Linked DNA regions of Homo sapiens. The protein of the gene in region 1 purifies or fractionates together with the protein of each later gene. This does not show direct contact. Each region holds a gene or a part of one and is shown in the gene's direction. Other genes may lie near its edges. The genes, in order: TM2D1 and PCNX3.

Region 1 (3,615 bases):
TTTGTCTTTTTTAATTTGCCTGTTCTAAATTTTTGTTTTTACAAATAGAGACAGGATCTCACTTTGTTCCCTAGGCTGGTCTCAAACTCCTGGGCTCAAGCTATCCTGCCTCGGCCTCCCTAAGTGCTGGGATTACAGACATGAGACACTGTGCCCAGCCAGCTTCAGGATATTTCTTAGCAGAGAAATAAACTCATAATTTTGGGTTCCATACTCTGTTGCCTATGGACAAATGGACATGGTCATATTTACTGAGGAAAAAAATTCCCAGTATTGGGGTAATTTACTTTCTTTTTTTAGAGACAGGGTCTTGCTCTGTTGCCCAGGCTGGAGTGCAGTGGCGTGATCATAACTCATTGCAGCCTCGAATTCCTGGGTTCAAACAATCTTCCTGCCTCAGCCTCCCATCCAGTATGGGATATTTTAAAAGGTTTGTAATTTTATAATTAATAATACAATCATATACTCATAATGACAGATGTTAGAATTGGCACATTTATTATATATGTGTATGTGGGTGCTTAAAACAGGTTTTATTATTTATTTATTTTTTCTTTGAGATAGAGCCTCACTCTGTTTCCCAGGTTGGAGTGGAGTGGTACAATCTCAGCTCACTGCAACTCTGCCTCCTTGGTTCAAGCAATTCTCATGCCTCAGCCTCCCTAGTAGTAGCTGGGATTACAGGTGTGCACCACCGTGCCTGACTAATTCTTGTATTTTTTTTTTTTGTAGATACTGGGTTTTGCCATGTTGGCCAGACTGGTCTCGAACTCCTGGCCTCAAGCAATCCTCCCACCTTGGCCTCCCAAAGTGCTGGGATTACAGGCATGAGCCACCACACCCTGTCTTAATTTGGCAAAGGAATGTGGATCTAAATAGTTGACATCTTTATAGCTGATCTTTTTTTTTTAAAAAGTAAATAAAACAGTTTCTTCTGTGACCAGATAGTTCATAGAAAAGTGTGTTGATGATACTTTGTAGTGGCTTAAGCTGAGGTGTTTGTATCTAAATCTTATAGAAGACATTAAAACTTTAAAAATACTGTACAGATCAGCTTATTCTATTCTTCATTATAATCAATAAGAAAAATTGAGATCCAGTAAGGAATAAATTATTTGATTCTACAGCTAGTTATAGAAAGAGACAGCTTTCTCTTCCAAGTTTTCCTTTCAGTTTAGTGCTTTACCACACCGACTTAATTTGGTTATTTAAATAGGGTTGCATTTTGTCACCCAGGCTGGAGCGCAGTGGTGTGATCATAGCTCACTGCAACCTTGAACTCCTGGGCTCAAGCAATCCTCCTACCTCAGCCTCTCGAGTAGCTGAGACTACAAGCGCACACCATGGCACCTGGCTAATATTTTATTTTCATTTTTTTTGGTAGAGGCAAAGTTCTTGCTTTTTTGCCCATGCTGGTCTCAAACTTCTGGCTTCAAGCAGTCTTCCTGCCTTGGCCTCCCAAAGTGTGGGATTACAGTTAATTTTTATGTAAACTCATAAATAAGTGTCAAGCCAAATCAATTTAATCTTTGACAAGTAAGTCAATGTGCATAACAGCACCTGACATGGTGTGTGGCACACATGTGCTTTGTAAGTACTACTTGAATATTAACATGTGTAGTTCACTGGAATAAGTTCCCTGTTGGCAGAGATGGTATTTTATTCACTGTTAGTGTATAATGTCTAGCATAGAACCTGGAATATCACAGGAATTAAGTATTTGTTGAATAGTTTTAAGATCAAATTTATTTTTAAAATGAGGAATGCTTTATAGCAATGTCCTTCAATTTCAAAAACAAAGTCCATACTCTCCACATATTTTTAAATTGACATTTAAGTTTTCTATCATAAGTTTAAATAGTTGCAAAGGATATAACTTCTAGTTTGCAAATATTTACATATTTAAATAAAAGTGTTACATCAATTTTGAAATGTATCCAACAGAATATAAATATCGTAGGATTTTAAATATCACCTACTTAAAAAAGATGTGCATGAACTCTTCACTAACCATTATAATTTTTACATTGCTTCTTCCTTGAATTTTTATTTTTATTCCTCTTCTACAGAATTTTATCCTAATATAATATATTTTTAGGTTTAAAAACTTCCTACTAGGCTGGGCACATTGGCTCACGCCTGTAATTCCAGCTCTTTGGGAGGCCGAAGCAGGCAGATCAATTGATGTTCTTAACCATCATCCTAGTACTAGGAGTTTGAGACCAGCCTGTTCAACATAGTGAAATCCTGTCTCTACAAAAAAATACAAAAACAAAATTAGCTGGGCGTGATGGCGCCCACCTGTGGTCCCAGCTACTTGGGAGGCTGAGGTGGGAGGATCGCTAGAGCCCCGGGGGGGAGGTTGCAGTGAGCCAAGATCATGCCATTGCACTCCAGCCTGGATGACAGAGTGAGACCCTATATCAAAAAACAAACAAACAAACAAATGAAAGAGAGAAAACTTCTAGCGAATCATCTTATTCATTAAAATTAAAATATTTAAAAATTTTCTGTGATTTTTTGTTTGGATCAACTTGTTATAATAATGATACACAGTTGATCAAAACAGCATAAACATGTTGCAAATTATTTTTAAACAAAAAGATGTAAAATGTTATTGGAAATGCATCTTTGGAACAGATACGGTAGAATGTATTTTTGGACCTTTGAGTAAAGGATAGTTCCCTAAATCCAATATTTTGAGCTATCCCTTTGTTTGGCACTTCAGAGGCTTTCACACCTCAGGGAAATATGCCATCATAAGACTCGGGGTATCCTGGATGGTAGGTATGCTTTACTGTTAACAAGTGGGAGAAATGACCACAGTGAGGAGAAGTGGGAAGGGAAACTGGTAGGATGCTTCCAGTGTAGCATGGTATCAGGCAAATTTGTTTTACAAAGAGTATTTAGGGAATTAAGCTCTCAGGATTGATTTCTCCTCTGGGCCCACATACACCTTGGTAAATCTTTGTCCACCTTTAATGCTACAGTTTGAAGATTGCTACCTTAGAGGGTAATTTATAGAGATTATGTTAACTAGATTGTCACATATGTGATTAAGTGGACAAGATGATTGTAGCGAACATGTGTTGTTTTTTTCTACCTCTTCCTTTTCCATTCCAGGTGGTTCTGGCAGGACTGTCAATGATACAACCTCATCTCCTACAGGCAGCCTGGCCTGGCCAATCATATTAAATCTATTCCCATGGATATAGTAGTTTGTCCACAGTACGCATAAAAACCAAGCAGATCGATAAAAGTCTTTCCCTGGAATTGGTATATAAACATTGGGGAAGAAAAGTTTACTTTCTTTGTATTAGGAGCTGCTGAGCTGGGAATATGTGACTCTAGAGCTGTTGGCAATTAGTTAGAGTGCCACTCTGCAGAATGAAGACAAGCAGAGCTAAGCAAGGAGGCAGGGAAGCCAAGGGCCTCAGGGAGCACAGAATTCAGTCCTTGGTTCCTGTAGCTTTTCTTTTGATCCTTTGAGCTATCCCAGTATATCCCAGTAGTTGTTTTTAGCTACATGAGCCACTAAATTACCTATTTTTGCTTAGGTTAGAGCTGGATTTTTGTTGCTTCTGAAATACTTTTATTAACAACTGAGAAAAGTAA
Region 2 (3,817 bases), on another chromosome or scaffold:
AGGACTTGGCCCTGCTACGGCCTAGCAAACGGCAGCCACCCCTGCGAAGACACTCTCCACCTGGCCGTGCCCCTCGACGGCCCCTGCTTGAAGGTGGGGGCTTCTTTGAGGATGAAGACACTAGTGAGGGCAGTGAACTGAGCCCGGCCTCCAGTCTCCGATCGCAGCGCCGCTACAGTACTGACAGCTCCTCTTCTACTTCCTGCTACTCCCCTGAGAGCTCCCGGGGTGCAGCAGGGGGACCCCGGAAGCGGAGGGCCCCCCATGGGGCTGAGGAGGGAACTGCTGTGCCCCCCAAGCGGCCATATGGGACCCAGCGGACGCCTAGTACCGCCAGCGCTAAAACACATGCCCGTGTGCTGAGCATGGATGGGGCTGGGGGTGATGTTCTGAGGCCCCCACTGGCTGGCTGCAAGGCAGAGCTGGAGGCCCAGGTTGGGGTGGAGCAGGCTGCTAGTGAGCCTGTTGTGCTGCCTGCTGAGGCGCGAAGGGGACCCGCTGCCAACCAGCCCGGCTGGCGGGGGGAGCTGCAGGAGGAAGGTGCTGTGGGGGGAGGTGAGTGCTTGCTCTAGAGGCAGGGGCTGGGGGACGTGAGCTACGGGCTTGGGGTTGGGCAAAGGGCAGGTAAGAATGGACCTGGTCAGTGTCAGCTCAGCCTCGGTTGTAGGCAGCAGATGGACGTGGGCCTGGTGGTGATTGACATTGTCTGCCAAACCTCTTAGACATGGGGCTCAGCCACCTGGCTCCACATCCTTGATTAGCACCTGAGTCTCTGTCCCCTGAGGACTCTCATCATCCACACTCATCCTCCCACCACCAGTGGGGTGGGGCAGGGCCGATCAGTGTCATCCTTGTTTGCAAGTAAGGAAACTGAGCATGGGGCTGTGTGACCTGGCTGGGCCTCAGAGCCGGGGCGTGGTTGTACTAGGCCTTTAGCTCCCTGGCGGAACACCGTCCCCAACCTTACTCCCCCAGCCTTGTCTGAGCATCTGTCACTTACACTTGGGGGCCTCTCTCTGGGCAGCGGCCGAGGAGACTGGCAGGCGGGACCGCTCAAGCAGTGTGAGGCGGACCCAGGCCATTCGGAGACGCCACAATGCAGGCAGCAACCCCACCCCTCCAGCCTCTGTCATGGGCTCGCCGCCCAGGTGAGCACCTTGCCAGCTGTGCCGAGGGGCACCGGGGGCCGGGGAGGGCCCGCAAGCTCTAGCTGGCGCTGACCTGGGGCTGACCCTCTCCAGCAGCCTGCAGGAAGCTCAGCGGGGCCGGGCTGCCTCCCACTCCCGGGCGCTGACGCTGCCCTCTGCGCTGCATTTCGCCTCTTCACTGTTGCTCACCCGGGCCGGTGCCAATGTGCATGAGGCCTGCACCTTTGATGACACTTCTGAGGGTGCTGTGCACTATTTCTACGATGAGAGCGGTGAGCCTTTCCCAAGCCCGGTGGCCCAGTGCCTCCCCGCCTTCCCCCAACAGCCTGAGTCCTCCTAGCAGTGGTGCTCGCTCGGCCCTGTGGCAGGTACACTGCTAATGCTGCCAGACATCATCCTTGCAGCCTCTTTGAGGCACGGTGTCTCTGTCATCTTTTGCTCTGCTGATGAGGAAACAGAGGCTCAGCTTACAGTACAGGGGAGATCTAAAGCTAGGACAGGTGACTGCCGCGCCCAGGCTCTTGACCTGTAGGCCCTTTCCTCTCCAGAGGCTGGGCTGCCCTCTCAGAGGACACAGCACAAGGTTCTGCCTCATTTGATGGGTCTGGTGCCCACGTGAGCCGGGCCTTGGTGCTTCTGTCTCTGCCACGCTGCCTCATCTCCCATACCCTGCCCCAGGTGTGCGGCGTTCCTACACCTTTGGCCTGGCTGGAGGCGGCTACGAGAACCCTGTAGGGCAGCAAGGGGAGCAGACAGCTAATGGAGCCTGGTGAGTTCCCAAGCCTGGCCTCCCAAGCCATTGTCTTGGTGGCCTGCATCTCTGGGAAGTTCCCTGAGCCTGGAGTTTGCTCTCTTCCTGCTGGGCTTGGGCAGGGGCAGCTCAGATCTGCAGGGAGAGGATGGGGAGCAGCAAAGGACAGACCTCCTGGGGTCCCTGGCTCCATGACACTCCGGGCAGGAAGTTTCTAGGAAGCCCAGGGCACAGCCTCGACACTCGTGCCAGGGTCTGGGAGGGAGGCACTTCTGCCACCTGACCCCAGCACTTGTCCCTTGAGCCCTGGTTGGTCTCGGCACAGACAGCCCTACCTGCCTGGCCTTGGCCTCGGCCTCGACCCCACCCAGCCCCAGGGCTCGCCCGTGGGGGGATCCTGATGGCTGCTGTTCTCACAGGGACCGACACTCGCATTCCTCCAGCTTCCACTCGGCTGATGTCCCTGAGGCTACAGGCGGCCTGAACCTGCTGCAGCCGAGGCCTGTGGTTCTGCAGGGCATGCAGGTGCGCCGGGTGCCCCTGGAGATCCCGGAGGTGAGGAGCAGCCGGGGAAGGGCCGTGCCAGTGGGGCGTGACGGGGCGGGCAGATCACTGAGTCCGGCCTGCATAGAGAGCTTGCCCAGGTGCCCCAGGAGGGACGGGCAGTGCTGAGTGAGCGCTCCAGGGGCCCTACTGTGTCTGTCCTGATCTTTGATGTTGGCAGAGACTCTGGGTCTGAATGGCTGGAGAAGTCATTTATTTGCTTACTACGAATTCCTTTGGAGTACATTCCTAACTCTGGAGGGTCCCACAGTGAACAGGGGCCATGGGTGTTAATGATGATACTTGCGGAAGTGGCAGTGTTCTGTTAGCAAGCAGGGACCCTGTGATGACTGTGCTGCCCTGCATACACTGTGCACGTGTGGCTGCTGGGGTGCTCTCTGTTAACACTTCCTGTCTCAGTATACTCATTACCAGCGCTCTGTCACTCTTAAGAATATCACAGTTTGGACAGTAAATTTGTATACTTAATCTATTAACACCAGAAGCGCTAAAAATGCGTGAAACGCCATCTTAGAGCTTAAAGAATGATCATAAAAGGGTACCCGGCACCTGACCCTCAAGGCCACAGATAGGTTGGGCAGCCCCCAGAAGCTCCCACCTGCCCGCTTCTGGTTCATTTCTTCCTTGTAACCATGTGGGGTGGAAGCGTGGCCGGCGGCCGCCTCCAGAGGGAAGGGTTGCGTGCCTCTGGCTCGCCATTTTATCCTTGGATCCCAGGGCAGGGCCGGGCCCATAGCTGGGGCCCCACAAGTGCTTGTTGAGTGAAGGATACAACAAATGAGAGGTCAAGTCATGTGCCCAGGGCCTCAGGGCTGGCATTGGCACCTAGGCATGTCCTCAAGGCTGAGCCCTGCATGCACGCTCGGATGGGGTAGTCAGAGTGACAGTGACAGGCCCTGTCTGGGAGGAGGGTAGCATTTGTGCCAGGTCCCAAAGGACAAGTGGACTTCCTTGAGCTTCAGAAGAGGTGGGAGAGTTTGCCTGACTGGGGAAGACAGGCGTGGGAGCGGGTGACTCTAGGCAGCCCCTGCAGCCACTGGGCGACGTCCTGGGAACCTGGAGAGAGGAGGAGCCCTTTCAGATGAAGGGTTCTGGTGGGGTCCAGGGCCGCTAGACAGGGGCCTTTATGTGCTGATGGAAATGGTCAACCAGACCGGTGTGCTGAAGGGGGGTAACAGTAGACCATGTGGGGGGTGGCGGGGCTGACGGCCGCGGCTGTGGGGACTGCAGTTTGACCTGCTGGACCAGGACTCCCTGCACGAATCCCAGGAGCAGACACTGATGGAAGAAGCGCCACCCCGGGCCCAGCATAGTTACAAGTACTGGCTTCTCCCTGGCCGCTGGACCTCTGTGC

The links.
Region 2: the proteins of TM2D1 (region 1) and PCNX3 purify together in Homo sapiens (affinity purification with mass spectrometry; one large-scale study listed by BioGRID and IntAct). This does not show direct contact.

The regions. Positions count from the first base shown.
Region 1 is NC_000001.11:61,683,607-61,687,221, reverse strand, and holds part of TM2D1 (TM2 domain-containing protein 1 precursor), read left to right. Parts: intron 1-300; coding exon of another isoform or gene 301-430; intron 431-3,615. UniProt on the Homo sapiens protein: May participate in amyloid-beta-induced apoptosis via its interaction with beta-APP42.
Region 2 is NC_000011.10:65,618,513-65,622,329, forward strand, and holds part of PCNX3 (pecanex-like protein 3), read left to right. Parts: coding exon 1-555; intron 556-1,024; coding exon 1,025-1,148; intron 1,149-1,241; coding exon 1,242-1,420; intron 1,421-1,826; coding exon 1,827-1,917; intron 1,918-2,318; coding exon 2,319-2,454; intron 2,455-3,693; coding exon of another isoform or gene 3,694-3,732; coding exon 3,733-3,817.